Linked DNA regions of Homo sapiens: region 2 is linked to region 1. A link means that fine-mapping ties the variant in region 1 to the expression of a gene that starts in the linked region. Tissue or cell type: whole blood. Region 1 holds a variant in brackets; the other region holds the start of a gene. All regions are shown on one strand. Distances are from middle to middle.

Region 1 (8,000 bases):
CCTTAAGTGATTCGCCCGCCTGGGGCTCCTAAAGTGTTGGGATTACTGGCATGAACTACCGTGCTGGCCTGGATCTCAGGCTTTGTTGAGCTGTTAACCAAGCTGTCAATCTCCCACCCTCCTGGTTCCCCAAACTTACACCACCATGAAAGACCCTCTGACCCCTTCCCTCTTCCCTAGCTGGGCTGGAGCTGGGGGAGGGTGTGCTGGGGCGTCCCACTTCTCAGCTTTGGGCCACGGATAAGTCAGCTCTGGAATTCCCCCAAGTAGAAGCAGCCCTGGACTTCCCCAGGGGCAGAGAGGATGAGGAACAGAATATACATCTTGAGGGGGGTGGGGGTCCCTTAAGCCTTGTTGGGTTGGCACAGAGCCAAGTTCCCAAACCATCATGATCGAGTCCTGGGGCCAGGTGCTGCGCTGGGCCAAGATACCCTGCCAGGTGGCCGCTATAACGTTTCCCGTTTTACAGCTGAGAAACTGTAAGAGACGCAATCTAGCCAAGCAAGGCGGTGGTTCACACCTCTCATCCCAGCTACTCGGGAGGCTGAGGCAGGAGGTAAGGCTAGACCCCCGGAGTTCAAGACCGGCCTGGGCAACAAAACGAGGCCCGCCCCTCCCCTCCATCTCCAACCCCCTACCCTTTTTTAAAGCTGCAATCTATAGCCCAAGGCCACACGTGGAGGTATGCAGGGTCTGGATTCGAACCTACTGGCTGTTGCCTTTCAATCGCTGTCTCTAGCCCCTCCTTCCCATAAACAGCTACCTAAGCATGCATGACCTGACCCGGGAGCCGGTCCTCCCGGGGCTTCGGAGAACTGGCCCGACGGCAATCCCCACCCCGACTCACCTGGGAACAGAGCCCCGAGCAGGACCAGGAGTGCGGGCAGCGCGGGCCGGGGGCTGCTGGGAGCCATAGCGAGGCTGAGGTTGCAACTCTGAGTAGCAGAGGAGCTCAGCGTCGACTGGGGCGCGTGATCCTTTATAGCGCTAGCCACCTGGGGGCCAAGGGGCGGTGCTGCTTTCCCGGAAACCTCGCGCCTTCCCCTCCGGAACAAATGCTGCAGTTATTTCCGGACTGACAGGGTGCCCGGGCCGAGAGGGTCATCCTCCCTCGCTGGCCGCTTCAGCTCCGGAATTTCCAAGCTAAAGCAATCGGGCGGCGGTGGCAGGGCGATGACCCCGGGGGCTGCTCCCGGCCTCCACGCCTCCCGTTTCCCGGCCAGGCTAAGCTTGAATCACGGTCTACACCGCGCTAAGCGGTTTATTAAGTACTTTTAAATACTGCCAACTTCCCCGGAGAGTGGAGACTGTTATTGTGTCCATTTCACAAAGCGGTAAACTGAGACTCCAGGCTGCGAGGGGGTCCGAACTCAAGTCCTCCCTCTCCAGCTTACGCAGGCCTCTTTAATCGAGTGGATGAGCCCCCTGCCTGGGTGGGGGCCCAGGAATCCTCCCCGGGCTCCCTCCACTGAGGGATGCCCCTCCCCCTAGGTCACGTCCACACCTAGCTGACACGGGCATTTCTCGAGAAGCGGCCAGAGCAGAGCCAGGCACCTCCCGGCGACCGCTAACCGTGGGAGTGACGAAGCGCGGTCTCACCACGTCCGGGGAAATCGGCGTCCTCTCTCTACACCCGAGGGCACTCACCCCGGCGGCCTCCTCGCTTCCCCTTTCGGCCTTGGCCGCGGAGGCGTCTTTACAGCTCCCAGAAAAAGGAAGGAAGCTGCGTGATCCCTACGCGCCGAGCCCCTCCGCTGGCGTCCCAGGCTCCGCGGGGAAACTGAGGCAGCTAGCTTGGATCTTGACGAGGGAGGGGAGGGGGACGCTCGAAATCCCTGCCTGTCGCTGGGAAACTGAGGCAGCAGCCCCCAGGCGCAGAGGCGAGGCAGGGAGAAGGGGCGCTCGAACCCCTGCCCTACGCGCGAGGCTCCGGCAACTCGAACCCAGGCTCATGCACTAAATATGAGCGGGTGTTTGCTTGGCCACCGCCTGTGCGTGTGACCCCAAGACTCGACATCCACCACGTCGAGGCTGGGTACTCTTAAGTCTCCGAGCACCAAGCCGCGCCGCCTAAGGCTTTCCTGTTGTGGGGCGCGCGCGGCGTCGCCATGGAGATCTCCGAGGGGCCAGGGAGGTCGCGCAGCAGAAGGGGAAGCGAAGGGTCCCCGGACGCGCAGGCCCTTCCTATCGGGGAAGGGGGCTGCGAGTCACTGGCCATCCAGAGACGCATATTTCCCCCGCCTCGGTCATTCCCAAGGAATTTCCACGGGGATATTTTTTTCTTGGGGGGCTGAGGAGTTCTGAATTCCCGCCCCGGAACGGCCTGAGCAAAGTCACAGGGTGGGACGGGGGACGCCCCTGGTCCTCAGAAGGCCTGGGAAAATCCTGCGCCACGGGTTCTTCCTCGGGCGGGTTCCACTGAGCTCTTGCCCCGGCCCGAGGTGCGCGAGCTCCCCCGCGCGGCCCAAGTCCCACTTGCAGCCACAATGGTGCCGTTCTTTTCTCAACATGTGGCTCAATGTTTTTTAAGCGCCTACTGTGTGCTTGGCGTCCTTCCAGGTACTGGGGACACAGGAATGAACAGAGTCAGACAAAAATCCACCTGGGCGCGGCTCCCACCTGTAATCCCAGCATTTTGGGAGGCCGAGATGGGAGGATCACTTGAGCCCAGGAGTTCAAGACCAGCCTGGGCAACATAGGGAGACCCCCATCTCTATGCAAAATACAAAAATTAGCCGGGTGTGGTGGTGCACACCTGTAATTCCACCTACTTGGGAGGCTGATGCAGGAGAATCTCTTGAACCCGGCAGGCGGAGGTTGCAGTGAGCCAAGATAGAGGCACTGCACTCCAGCCTGGGTGAGAGTGAGACTCAAAAAAAAAAAAAAAAAAAAAAAAAAAGGAACAGCCAGGAGAACAGTGTGGCTGGAGCAGGCTTAGCAAAGGAGAGATTCGAGGAGAGGAGCGGGCAGGGAGATGACAGGGCAGATAGGTGCAAGTTCCTGTCACCTGAGGAGGACTTTGTTGTTTTGTTTGTTTGTTTCTGAACCCCAGTCTCGTTCTGTCACCCAGGCTGGAGCACAGTGGTGTGATCTCGGCTCACTGCAAACTCTGCCTCCCAGGTTCAAGCGATTCTCCCACCTCAGCCTACCGAGTAGCTGGTACTACAGGGGTGCGTCACCACGCCTAGCTAATTTTTGTATTTTTAGTAGAGATGGGGTTTCACCATGTTGGTCTCTAACTCCTGACCTCTAGTGATCCGCCCCCCTTGGCCTCCCAAAGTGCTGGGATAACAGATGTGAGCCACCGTGCCTGGCCAGGACTTTGGCTTTTATGCCCAGCGAGGTGGGAGGTATAGAGGGTTCTGAGCAGAGGAAGGACCTTGCCCTAACTCAAGTGTTCACAGGGGCCCAGTTGAGGCTTCAAGAGCTGCAGCCAGGAGATGGGAGAGGAGGTGACTGTTCTAGTCCAGATGAATGATAGTGGGGCCTGGACTGGGCAGTGTCCTTGGAGAAAGGGCTGAATTTGACATCCGTTTTGGAGGCTGGGCCAACTGGAGGTGCTGGGACAAGGGGGATGACTCCTTGATCAGGGTCCGAGCCTTTTGGAGGATGGCGGGTCACTTTCTGAGATGGGAGTGGGATGGCTATGGTAGGGGGCAGGCTGGCAGAGAGAGACGGCACCTCCCAGTCCTCCGTTCCCTTAAGCGTTTTTCAAGGAAAAGGGAAGCAGATATTTCCTAGACCTTTGTTTCTGTCTCCAGGAAGGGCAGGGCTTCCTCCCGGTTGCCAGACAGTCAGGCAGGCCAAAGAATGGCCTCAGACCAGAGGCTGCCCACCAAGGGCAGAAGCCATCCCATAGTGTCCCATGCAAACGCCTTGCAGTTCCCTCAGCCTGGAATGCTCTTCCCTTCAACCCCAACAAGGCTGGCTCCTCCTGTCTTGTGGCCTGAGCTTTCTCCTAAATGAGTGTCCCCCCTACTCCATCCTGGGCCACATCCTGGGCGTTCCTTGTCACTCGCCTTAATATTCGAATTCCTTAACTCATTACTTGCTGAATTTCTTTTTTAATTTTTTGAGACAGAGTTTCACTCTGTCACCCTGGCTAGAGTGCAGTGGCACGATCTCAGCTCACTGCAACCCCTGCCTCCCAGGTTTAAGTGATTCTCCTGCCTCAGCCTCCCGAGTAGCTGGGATTACAGACATACGCCACCAGACCCGGCTAATTTTTGTGTTTTTAGTAGAGACGGGGTTACACCATGTTGGCCAGCCTGGTCTCAAACTCCTGACCTCAAGTGATCCACCTGCCTTGGCCTCCCAAAGGGCTGGGATTATAGGCATGAGCCACTGCTCCCGGCCTATTTAGTTTTTTTTTTTTTTTTTTTTTTGAGACAAAGTCTCGCTCTGTTGTCCAGGCTGGAGTACAGAGGTGTGATCTCGGCTCACTGCAACCTC[C/T]GTTTCCTAGGTTCAAGAAATTCTTCTGCCTTAGCCTCCCAAATAGCTGGGATTACAGGCACCCACCAACACCCCTGGCTAACTTTTGTATTTTTTTTTTTTTTCAAGATGGAGTCTCACTCTGTGGCCCAGGCTGGAGTGCAGTGGTGCGATCTCGGCTCACTGCAACCTCCACCTCCCAGGTTCAAGTGATTCTCCTGCCTCAGCCTCCCAAATAGCTGGGACTACAGGTGCGTGTCACCACGCACAGCTAATTTTTTGTATTTTTAGTAGAGACAGGGTTTCACCGTGTTAGCCAGGATGGTCTCGATCTTCTTACCTCATTATCTGCCTGCCTCACCCTCCCAAAGTGCTGGGATTACAGGCGTGAGCAAACGCACCCGGCCAACTTTTGTATTTTTATTTTACTTTTCATTTTATTTATGTAAATTTTTGTGAGGTCGTCTCACTCCGTCGCCCAGGCTGGAGTGCAGTGGTGCAATCTCGGCTCACTGCAACCTCTACTTCCCAGGTTCAAGCGATTCTCTTGCCTCAGCCTCCCAGGTAGCTGAGACTACAGGTACCCACCACCACATCTAGCTAATTTTTGTATTTTTAGTAGAGATGAGGTTTTACCATGTTGGCCTGGCAGGTCTAGAACTCCTGACCTCAGGTGATCCGCCCGCCTTGGCCTCCAAAAGGCGTGAGCCACTGTGCCCGGCAGAGCTTATCTTTGATTACAGATTTCTTCTGGGGAATAGCTTAGTTTGTGGTTTTGTTTTTCAAAACTCTGCTTCAGCAAAGATGTGGGGAAAAAAAAAGGGCTATGGAAACTCTTCTGATTCCAGTTTTGGTGATGGAAGACAGCCACCAGGAAACCCTGCCGAAAGAATGGGTCAGATCAATAATCTGAGCGGTCCCAGTCCTCCTCCAATGGCTGATGGATGAGGAAGGTAAATATCAGTTCTAAGAAGCAGACAACTGGACATGCACATTCATAGCAGAAGGAAACCGTCAAAAAGTAGAGGGAAGGTGGGGTGCAGTGGCTCACCCCTGTAATCCCAGCCCTTTGAGAGACTGAGGTGGGAAGATCACTTGAGATCAGGAGTTCAAGACCAGCCTGGGCAACACAGTGAGAACCTGTCTCTACAAAAAACAAAATAAGTAATCCCAGCACTTTGGGAGGCCGAGGCAGGCGGATCACGAGGTCAGGAGATCGAGACTATCCTGGCTAACACAGTGAAACCCCATCTCTACTAAAAATACAAAAATTAGCCGGGAGTGGTGGTGGGCGCCTGTAGTCCCAGCTACTCGGGAGGCTGAGGCAGGAGAATGGCGTGAACCCAGGAGGTGGAGTGCAGTGAGCCGAGACCATGCCACTGCACTCCAGCCTGGGCAACAGAGTGAGACTAAGTCTCTAAATAAATAAATAAATAAATAATAAATAAAATTTAAGGCCGTGTGCAGTGGCTCACACCTGTAATCTCAGCACTTTGGGAGGCCAAGGCAGGAGAATCACCTGAGGTCAGGAGTTCGAGACCAGCCTGGCCAACATGGTGAAACCCTGTCTCTACTAAAAATACAAAAATTAGCTAGGTGTGGGGACGCGGGCCTGTAATCCCAGCTACTCGGGAAGCTGAGGCAGGAGAATTGCTCGAACCTGGGAAGTAGAGGTTGCAGTGAGCCGAAATCACGCCACTGGACTCCAACCTGGACAACAGAGTGAGACTCTGTCTCAAAAAAATAAATAAAATAAAATTTAAAAAGTGGAGGGCTGACCATGCTGGACGAGCAGATAAAATGTGTATGTCTAAACAACAGTTGCTGACCAGGCACCTGTCATCCCAGCACTTCGGGAGGCCGAGGTGGGTGGATCACTTGAGGTCAGGAGTTTGAGACCGGCCTGCCCAAACTGGTGAAACCTCATCTCTAGTAAAAATAAAAAAATTAGCTGGGCATGGAGGCACAAGCCTGTAATCTCAGCTACTCAGGAGGCTGAGGCATGAGAATCTCTTGAACCCGGAAGGTGGAGGTGGCAGAGGGCTGAGATCATGCCACTGCACTCCAGTCTGGGCAACAGAGTGAGATCCATCTTAAAAAAATAAAACACAAGGATTGCTCTGTCTTCACAAGTGAATGAGGTCATGCTGGGAATTCCCTCTGCAGGGACTGGACTGACCAACATGCAGTTCTCTAAATAAATGCATATTTATCTGATTATCATTTTTGTGTAGTTAAGCATTAACACAGTTTTTGTGTGTGTGTGTGTATTTTTTTTTTTTTTTCGAGACGGATTCTCGCTCTGTCGCCCAGGCTGGAGTGCAATGGCGCGATCTCAGCTCACTACAACCTCTGCCTCCCCGGTTCCTGCCATTCTCCTGCTTCAGCCTCCTGAGTAGCTGGGACTACAGGCACCCACCACCGCGCCCGGCTAATTTTTTGTATTTTTTAGTAGAGACGGGGTTTCACCGTGTTAGCCAGGATGGTCTCAATCTCCTGACCTCGTGTTCCACCTGCCTCGGCCTCCCAAAGTGCTGGGATTACAGGCATGAGCCACCGCACCCGGCCAGCATTAACATAGTTTTGATAAATATTTTTTGGGGCCAGGCTCGGTGGCTCACGCCTGTAATCCCAGCACTTTGGGAGGCCGAGGCAGGCAGATCACGAGGTCAGGAGTTTGAGATCAGCCTGACCAATATGGTGAAATCCCGTCTCTACTAAAAATACAAAAATTAGCCAGGCATGGGGATGCGTGCCTGTAATCCCAGCTACGCGGGAGGCTGAGGCAGGAGATTTGCTTGAACCGGGAGGCAGAGATTGCAGTGAGCCGAGGTTGCACCACTGCACTCCAGCCTGGGTGACAGAGCGAGACTCTGTCTCAAAAAAAACCAAAAAAACAAAAAACTGTGTATTCAGTACTCTCAGTGTCACCTTCTCCAAATTTTGAAATACAGCTCCTTATTTATTTATTTAGAGATGGAGTCTCGCTCTGTCCCCCAGGCTGGAGTGCAGTGGCGTGATATCGCCTCACTGCAACCTCCGCCTCCAGGGTTTAAGCGATTCTCCTACCTCAGCCTCCCATAGCTGAGATTACAGGCGCCCGGCACCATGCCCGGCTAATTCTTTTGTATTTTTAGTAGAGATGGGGTTCCACTATATTGGTCAGCCTGGTCTCGAACTCTTGACCTCAAGTGTTCCACCTGCCTTGGCCCCCCAAAATGCTGGGATTATAGGCATGAGCCACCACACCCAGCCTACGGCTCATTATTAATTCGTTCTCATTTATAAATAAATATCTCACTGTATTTATTTCAGTAGTTTTGCAAAAAACAAAAACAGAAAACTTTTTTTTTTTTTAGATGTGCCGTGATGTGGTCTCGGCTCACTGCAACCTCCACCTCCTGGGTTCAAGTGATTCTCCTGCCTCAGCCTCCCAAGTAGTTGCGACTACAGGCTTCTGACACCACGCCTGGCTAAATTTTTTTTTTTTTTTTTTGAGATGGAGTCTCACTCTGTCACCCAGGCTGGAGTGCAGTGGCGCGATCTCAGCTCACTGCAAGCTCCGCCTC
Region 2 (8,000 bases), 65 kb before region 1:
CCATGCTGGAGTACAATGGCGCGATGTCAGCTCATTGCAACCTCCGCCTCCTGGGTTCAAGTGATTCTCCTGTCTTAGCCTCCTTAGTAGCTGGGATTACAGGCGTGTGACACCATGCCCGGCTAATTTTTGTATTTTTAGTAGAGACAGGGTTTTGCCATATGGGCCAGGTTGGTCTCAAACTCCTGACCTCAAGTGATCCGCCTCCCTCGGCCTCCCAAAGTGGTGGGATTACAGGCATGAGTCACCTTGCCCAGCCTTTTTTTTTTTTTTTTTTTTTTTGACATAGAGTCTCTCTCTGTCGCCAGGCTGGAGTGCAGTGGCACTATCTCAGCTCACTGCAAATTTTGCCTCCTGGGTTCAAGCGATTCTTGTGCCTCAGCCTCCTGAGTAGCTGGGATTACAGGCACGTGCTACCATGCCTGGCTAATTTTTGTATTTTTAGTAGAGATGGGGTTTCACCATGTTGGCAAGGCTGGTCTTGAACTCCTGGTCTCAGGTGATCCGTCCACCTTGGCCTCCCAAAGTGCTGGGATTACAGGCATGAGCCACAGTGCCCGGCCTGAGGCCCAGCGTTTTGTAGGTGTACTGGGGAGGGCACCCAGCCTGGGAGTGTCAAGTCTCCTGTGACTGTGCCGGAGTATCTTGAGAGGCTGCCACAGGGCTGGTGAACCAGGAAAGCCCTGAGTGTCTGAACCTGATTGGAGAGAACTGAATAATCCTGACCTTTTGATCCACCCACCCCGGCCTCCCAAAGCTCTGGGATTACAGGCGTGAGCCACCACGTCTGGCCATAAACAGGAATTTTTAATATTCATATCATAGTCATAAACGTTCATCCCTTCCATCCTCATTTTTTTTTATTGTGCCATCTTTGAGAACAGAAAGTTTTGTTTAGCGCCTTGCAAGGTATCTGACAACACAGGAAATGATAATCACTGCGCTAATGATAATAGCAAACGCTTCGACTGGCCCAGCTCTAAGCCCTCTAAGTTTATTAACTCAAAGCTCACAGTTCTCGGCAGGACCACCCTGTCTCCTCCCCAGTCCCTGGGGTGAGTGGGTGGGTTTGCAGGACCCGCTAAGTGCCATCCTCCCCTCCTCTCTCAGGGCTCCCGGAGCGTGTGGAGCTGGCACCCCTGCCTCCTTGGCAGCCGGTGGGCCAGAACTTCACCCTGCGCTGCCAAGTGGAGGATGGGTCGCCCCGGACCAGCCTCACGGTGGTGCTGCTTCGCTGGGAGGAGGAGCTGAGCCGGCAGCCCGCAGTGGAGGAGCCAGCGGAGGTCACTGCCACTGTGCTGGCCAGCAGAGACGACCACGGAGCCCCTTTCTCATGCCGCACAGAACTGGACATGCAGCCCCAGGGGCTGGGACTGTTCGTGAACACCTCAGCCCCCCGCCAGCTCCGAACCTTTGGTGAGAGAAGGGGCTTCAGACGGTGGGTGACGAGCTGAGCCAGGGTAGACGGTGCCCTGACCTTGGGGTTCCTGAGAGTGGGGTACCCCGGACCTCACAGGCTTCTGGGAAGGAAAGCCCCCGGCCACTGGGCAAGGTGGCCCCGGAAGGGAGGCCCGAGCCGTGGGATCTTTGAAGAAGGCCGTTTTCATGGCCCTGTGTGTGTGTCCTGTGAAGAAGGGTGACCCAGTCAGCAAGATATCCTGACTGGGGGGGATGAGGGTGTCCTGGGGAAGGCACAGTCCTGGGGGTTGTACTATGCCCACCTTTCTCCCCAGTCCTGCCCGTGACCCCCCCGCGCCTCGTGGCCCCCCGGTTCTTGGAGGTGGAAACGTCGTGGCCGGTGGACTGCACCCTAGACGGGCTTTTTCCAGCCTCAGAGGCCCAGGTCTACCTGGCGCTGGGGGACCAGATGCTGAATGCGACAGTCATGAACCACGGGGACACGCTAACGGCCACAGCCACAGCCACGGCGCGCGCGGATCAGGAGGGTGCCCGGGAGATCGTCTGCAACGTGACCCTAGGGGGCGAGAGACGGGAGGCCCGGGAGAACTTGACGGTCTTTAGTAAGAGGAGGCGTGGGAAGGGGGCGCGGCCTCAGCAGTCTGGGGGCGTGGCAGAGGGGGCGGAGACTAGCCGAAAAGGTGGGGCCTGGCTTGCCCCAATAGCAGTTGCAACGTGGGTTGGGCCTGAGTGCCCGAAGCTGGACACAGCGCGGAAAGAGGGCGAGGCTTGAACGGCCGAAAGCGTGGCCCGGATATCCCGAGAGGAAAGGGGAGGGCGGAGGGAGCGGCTTGACCCACAGGAAGGTCCTGTTCATTAAGCTCCTGGGCAATGCCCCGCCTTTAGGCTTCCTAGGACCCATTGTGAACCTCAGCGAGCCCACCGCCCATGAGGGGTCCACAGTGACCGTGAGTTGCATGGCTGGGGCTCGAGTCCAGGTCACGCTGGACGGAGTTCCGGCCGCGGCCCCGGGGCAGCCAGCTCAACTTCAGCTAAATGCTACCGAGAGTGACGACGGACGCAGCTTCTTCTGCAGTGCCACTCTCGAGGTGGACGGCGAGTTCTTGCACAGGAACAGTAGCGTCCAGCTGCGAGTCCTGTGTGAGTCGGTCACCCTGACCTTTAATCCCTCCACCCCTGCCCTGGAAAGATTAGACGCTCCTCTGCACCACTGTGCCTCGGGTGTGTTGGGTGTCTGATCACACATGGTGGTTCCACAGATGGTCCCAAAATTGACCGAGCCACATGCCCCCAGCACTTGAAATGGAAAGATAAAACGAGACACGTCCTGCAGTGCCAAGCCAGGGGCAACCCGTACCCCGAGCTGCGGTGTTTGAAGGAAGGCTCCAGCCGGGAGGTGCCGGTGGGGATCCCGTTCTTCGTCAACGTAACACATAATGGTACTTATCAGTGCCAAGCGTCCAGCTCACGAGGCAAATACACCCTGGTCGTGGTGATGGACATTGAGGGTGAGCTAACACGGGGCTGCGGGTCTGGACCGGTAAGCCGGGGGGCGGGGGGGTTGGAGACAGAAGGGACGCATATTGACTTAGCGCTTTCTCTGCACAGCTGGGAGCTCCCACTTTGTCCCCGTCTTCGTGGCGGTGTTACTGACCCTGGGCGTGGTGACTATCGTACTGGCCTTAATGTACGTCTTCAGGGAGCACCAACGGAGCGGCAGTTACCATGTTAGGGAGGAGAGCACCTATCTGCCCCTCACGTCTATGCAGCCGACAGAAGCAATGGGGGAAGAACCGTCCAGAGCTGAGTGACGCTGGGATCCGGGATCAAAGTTGGCGGGGGCTTGGCTGTGCCCTCAGATTCCGCACCAATAAAGCCTTCAAACTCCCTAATCTGTGGTTTGATTCCACCCGCGCTGCAAGTCTCTCCCACCCAGGTGCACATCCACTGAGTAGCGTCGCTGCGACGGAAGGGGGCGGGGCCTGTGGCGCGCAGACGCAGCTTGAACTCTTGAGAGGTGGGCTGGGGCTTAGCCAACGGGGCAAGGGGGGCGGGAAGGAGGTGGGGTTTCTCCCAGCCAATCGACGGGCGCGCCCTCGTTGCCGCTCTATGCCGCTCCGCCCCGGCTCGCTGGTCCCAGAAGGCGCCGGGTTTCCCAAGATGGCGGCGGACGTGTCCGTTACTCACCGGCCCCCGCTGAGCCCTAAGTCTGGGGCCGAAGTCGAAGCCGGCGATGCCGCGGAGCGCCGGGCGCCGGAAGAAGAGCTGCCGCCTCTAGATCCAGAAGAGATCCGGAAACGCCTGGAACACACCGAGCGCCAGTTCCGTAACCGCCGCAAGATACTGATCCGGGGCCTCCCGGGGGACGTGACCAACCAGGTATTGGGGGGGGCGGTGTAGGAGCGTGGCGGGAAATACCACGGTGCGCGTGCGCGGGGGGAACCGGGCGACACCAACGCTGAGGTGCGCGGGGGTCGTTGGCGGGGGCGCCCAAGCACCGGATCCACGCGGGATCGGGAGAGACCAAGAGCGGGACGTGGGGGGGCGATGATGAAAGGGGAAACCGACTGCGAAGTGAGGGAGGGCGTTGCTAGGGGCGACCACAGGCTTGGGCGACACCAAGTGATGGAAGCGGGCGGGGAATGGAAGGGGGCGGACAGCTTTGGTCCTGTTGGGGAATTGTGAATGGGCTGGTACATTGGACCACCAGTTGCCCCCTGCTTGGATGATGCTTTTCTCCACCCACTCTACCACAGGGTGGCGGGACCTCACATCCAGAAGTTTCAGGACTGCGGAGAGTACGCCCCTCCATATCACGCGTTTATTCACTGCTCTCAGAGATAAATCCGGAAGTTAACAGCAGCCCCTGGGTCTCAGCCCCCAAAACCTCAGGATTAATTTGGGAAAATGGGGTCTTCTGCCACCAGCCTACAGACCTACAGGAAGGAAGCGAGGCCTGTGTTCTATGGAGCCCCTCGTGGCTAATCTTCCTGCTAGGAGTGCCCTTCTCATGGGGCCAGCATGGGGCAGCGCTTCCCAATGCTCTTTGGACCCAGGGAAATGGCATCTATACTGCCCTGCCCTATGGCGGTGAAATAGGTTCTCGCTTCCTGCTGCTGAGATTCCCTGCTCTCCGGCCCACCAGCACACCGGGTGGGCACGTGGCTAGTGGAACCCCAGGGATGTTGGGAGGGGCTGAATTTGGGGACAGATCGGGACAGGGATCATTAAGGATGGTCAGGTTTCTTTCTGGGTCTTCCTCTCAGTGTCTGCAGTCTCTCAGCTGGGAACACATTGTCTCTCCTGCAAGATGCACAGTGTGTCTGGTCCCAGCAGGCGCCAGCACTTTGCCTTCAAAGCTGGCTTGAGAGGCTGGGCATGGTGGCTCATCCCTTTAATCCCAGCACTTTGAGAGGCTGAGGCAAGAGGCTGTATTGAGCCCAAGGGTTCGAGACTAGCCTGGGCGGTATAGTGAAACCCTCATCTCTACAAAAAATTTTTAAAAATTAGCCAGGCATGGTGGTGCGTGCCTGTAGTCCCAGCTACGCAGGAGGCTGAGGTGGGAGGATCACTTGAGCCTAGGAGGTTGAGGCTGCAGTGAGCTATGATTGTGCTACTACACTCTAGCCTAGGTGACAGAACAAGACACTATCTCTAAAAAAAAGAAAAATAAATGAGCTGGCTTGGAAGAGGGCAGCTTTATCAGCAGGAGGAAATTGGGAGGCATGTGAACCCACACAACGTGGGGCTTACTAGAAGGTGGGCTCCCCAGTCAGGTACCCATGGGTGGCTGCGCTGCCCAACTGCATGGCCTCCAGCAGATCTCTTCACTTCTCCTAGCCTAAGTTTTCTCATATACAACATGAGTTTGTTAATACTTCACTTACAGAGTTGTTGGAAACAGTGAATCTTGCAAAAGGAGGTTCATGCAGGTTAAATGGCTTCCCTAAAGGCATACTCTTTTTTTTTTTTTTTTTTTTTTTGAGACGGAGTCTCACTCTGTCGCCAGGCTAGAGTGCAGTGGCTTGATGTCTGCTCACTGCAACCTTCACCCCTCGGGTTCAAGCAATTGTCTTGCCTCAGTCTCCCGAGTAGCTAGGACTACAGGTGCACGCCACCACAGCCAGCTGATTTTTGTATTTTTAGTAGAGATGGGGTTTCACCTTCCTGGCCAGGATGGTCTCGATCTCTTGATCTTGTGACCCGCCTGCCTCAGCCTCCAAAGTGCTGGAATTACAGGCGTGAGCCCGGCCTCTTTTTTTTTTTTTTTTTTTGTTGTTGTTATTTTTTTTTTTTTTTTTTTTTTTTTTTGAGACGGAGTCTCGCTCTGTCGCCCAGGCTGGACTGCGGACTGCAGTGGCGCAATCTCGGCTCACTGCAAGCTCTGCTTCCCGGGTTCACGCCATTCTCCTGCCTCAGCCTCCCGAGTAGCTGGGAATACAGGCGCCTGCCACCGCGCCCGGCTAATTTTTTTGTATTTTTAGTAGAGACGGGGTTTCACCTTGTTAGCCAGGATGGTCTCGATCTCCTGACCTCGTGATCCACCCGCCTCGGCCTCCCAAAGTGCTGGGATTACAGGCGTGAGCCACCGCGCCCGGCCTTGTTGTTATTGTTGTTGACAGTGTCTCCCTTTGTCACCCAGGCTGGAGTGCAGTGGCACACTGCAACCTCTGCCTCCTGGGTGCAAGCAGTTCTCCTACCTCAGCCTCCCGAGTAGCTAGGATTACAGGTGTGCGCCACCACTCCTGGCTAATTTTTGTATTTTTAGTAGAGACAAGGTTTCACCATGTTGGCCAGGCTGGTCTCGAACTCCTGACCTCAGGTGATTCACCCGCCTCGGCCTCCCAAAATGCTGGGATTATAAGCGTGAGCCACCCCGCCCAGCCAGCTAAAGGTATACCCTCTAAGAGCATGTTGCCTGGGTAATAGCACAGTCTGCAGCTAGGTTCTGAATCCCATCTCTGCCAGGTATGAGCAGAATGACCTTGACAAAATTACTGCATCGAGCCTCAGTTTCCTCATTGGTAAAATGGGGGGTGGTAATTGACCTGCCTTCATAGCTGGTGGCAGCTATGAAGCGGCACTGGGTTGCCCCCTTCCATCTCCAGTAACTCCCTGTCTTTTGTCTTGTATCTCCACAGGAAGTACATGACCTGCTCAGTGACTATGAGCTCAAATACTGTTTTGTGGACAAATACAAAGGGACAGGTTTGTGGGGCCATGGGGCGGGCCAGGGCAGGGAGTGACCATCCCTGAAGATGGGAGGGCCTGGCTCACTGTCTGCTGCTCTGAGCTTCAGGCCCAGTATTGCCCCCCAGGCCAACATGGCAGGTTGCCCCAATCTGCCTGTCATCCTGTCATCTTGGGACAGCCTTCATGTTCTCCTTGGAGAACACTGGGCATCGGGCTGATTCTCTTCCTACTCCACTCGCTTGGCATTGAGCTAATTCTTGACAACGTTTGGCCGTGGGTTCATTCTCTTCTTACCCCTCTTGCCTCACTCAGCCAGTCACCCCTGCTTGTGTGGTCTTTTTTTTTTTTTTTTTGAGATGGAGTCTTGCTCTGTCGCCAGGCTGGAGTGCAGTGGCGCGAGCTCGGCTCGCTGCAACCTCCGCCTCCTGGGTTCAGCCCATTCCCCTGCTTCAGCCTCCCGAGTAGCTGGGATTACAGGCATGTGCCACCATGCCCGGCTAATTTTTGTATTTTTAGTAGAGACAGGGTTTCTACCTGGGTGGGTCCAGGTTAACCAGGTGAGGAGGTGGGGCTCAGTGTTCCATGCTCAAGAAACAGCAGCTGCAAAGGCCCCTCTGGAGTGTGCCTGGCGTGGTCCGGGTGGCAGCGGTGAGATGGGAGGGGAGGTCAGCGAGCCCGCACAGGCTGCACTGCACCCTGCAGCTAGAAGCCACAAGATGGATGTGGCGTGATCGTTTTGAACAAAGCTTCCTGCGGCCGCTGGGTGGATCGCAAATCTGGGGCAGCACGTGGCAGCAGGGTTCAGGGGCACTGGTGGCCTGGAAAGGTGGCAGGGGTGGGCAGTGTGTAGAGTGGGCCTCTGGAGTCCGGCTGCCTGGGTTCAAGTCCAGGCTCCCCTACTCGGGGCACAGGGGTGCTGCTCTGGGCCCGTTTCCTCTCTGGCAAAATGGTGATTGTGATGATTAAGTTATATCCATTTGAGAGATGAGGAAACTGATACCCCCAAAGCCACCTGGGGCTTGGGGCTTAAATCTGGGCCCCAGTGAGCATGGGCTTAACCACTGCCCTTGGTATCACCCGAGTGACCCACAGCGTTCTTAGGACAGAGCCAGGCCCACAGTTGGTGAGCGCTGCTGTGGGTGCAGGTGGACGCAGGGCTGGGAGAGGGAGTGGGCTTCGTGGAGCCTAGAGTCAATGGCAGGCGCTCTCGCCTGTGTGAGTCGCCAAGGCTGGCAACTGCTCAGATCAGCAGGCACCTGAGATGCCCAGCATTTGGAGGTCCCACCTGGTTTGCAGGGTGGCGGGGTGGAGGGGCAGGCCCTCAGGGCCCGGCTGACCTCGCACTGCCCTCCTCCCACCGCAGCCTTCGTGACCCTGCTGAATGGGGA

The links. PIP is the estimated chance that this variant, and not a neighbour inherited with it, causes the effect.
Region 2: it holds the start of RAVER1, and the variant in region 1 is fine-mapped to the expression of RAVER1 in whole blood (TOPMed, PIP above 0.99).

What each region holds. Positions count from the first base shown.
Region 1 is chr19:10,264,074-10,272,073 of GRCh38, reverse strand. ICAM1 (intercellular adhesion molecule 1) reads right to left here and starts at 954. Exons shown (of 7, transcript NM_000201.3): 1 at 848-954. The coding sequence starts at 914. LIMASI (lncRNA inflammatory and mucous response associated, antisense to ICAM1) reads left to right here. Exons shown (of 4, transcript XR_007067138.1): 2 at 5,280-5,384. RefSeq lists enhancers at 153-392, 1,303-1,392 and a silencer at 3,747-4,041. The variant C/T (reference allele first, on the strand shown) is at 4,453.
Region 2 is chr19:10,329,087-10,337,086 of GRCh38, reverse strand. It overlaps RAVER1 (ribonucleoprotein, PTB binding 1), which reads left to right and starts at 3,558. Exons shown (of 13, transcript NM_133452.3): 1 at 3,558-3,798; 2 at 6,561-6,627; 3 at 7,976-8,000. The coding sequence starts at 3,580. It overlaps ICAM3 (intercellular adhesion molecule 3), which reads left to right. Exons shown (of 7, transcript NM_002162.5): 3 at 1,111-1,416; 4 at 1,734-2,021; 5 at 2,305-2,559; 6 at 2,679-2,927; 7 at 3,028-3,311. The coding sequence ends at 3,230. RefSeq lists enhancers at 1,915-2,533, 3,158-3,297, 3,538-3,757, 3,248-4,164, 4,165-5,081 and a silencer at 3,930-4,153.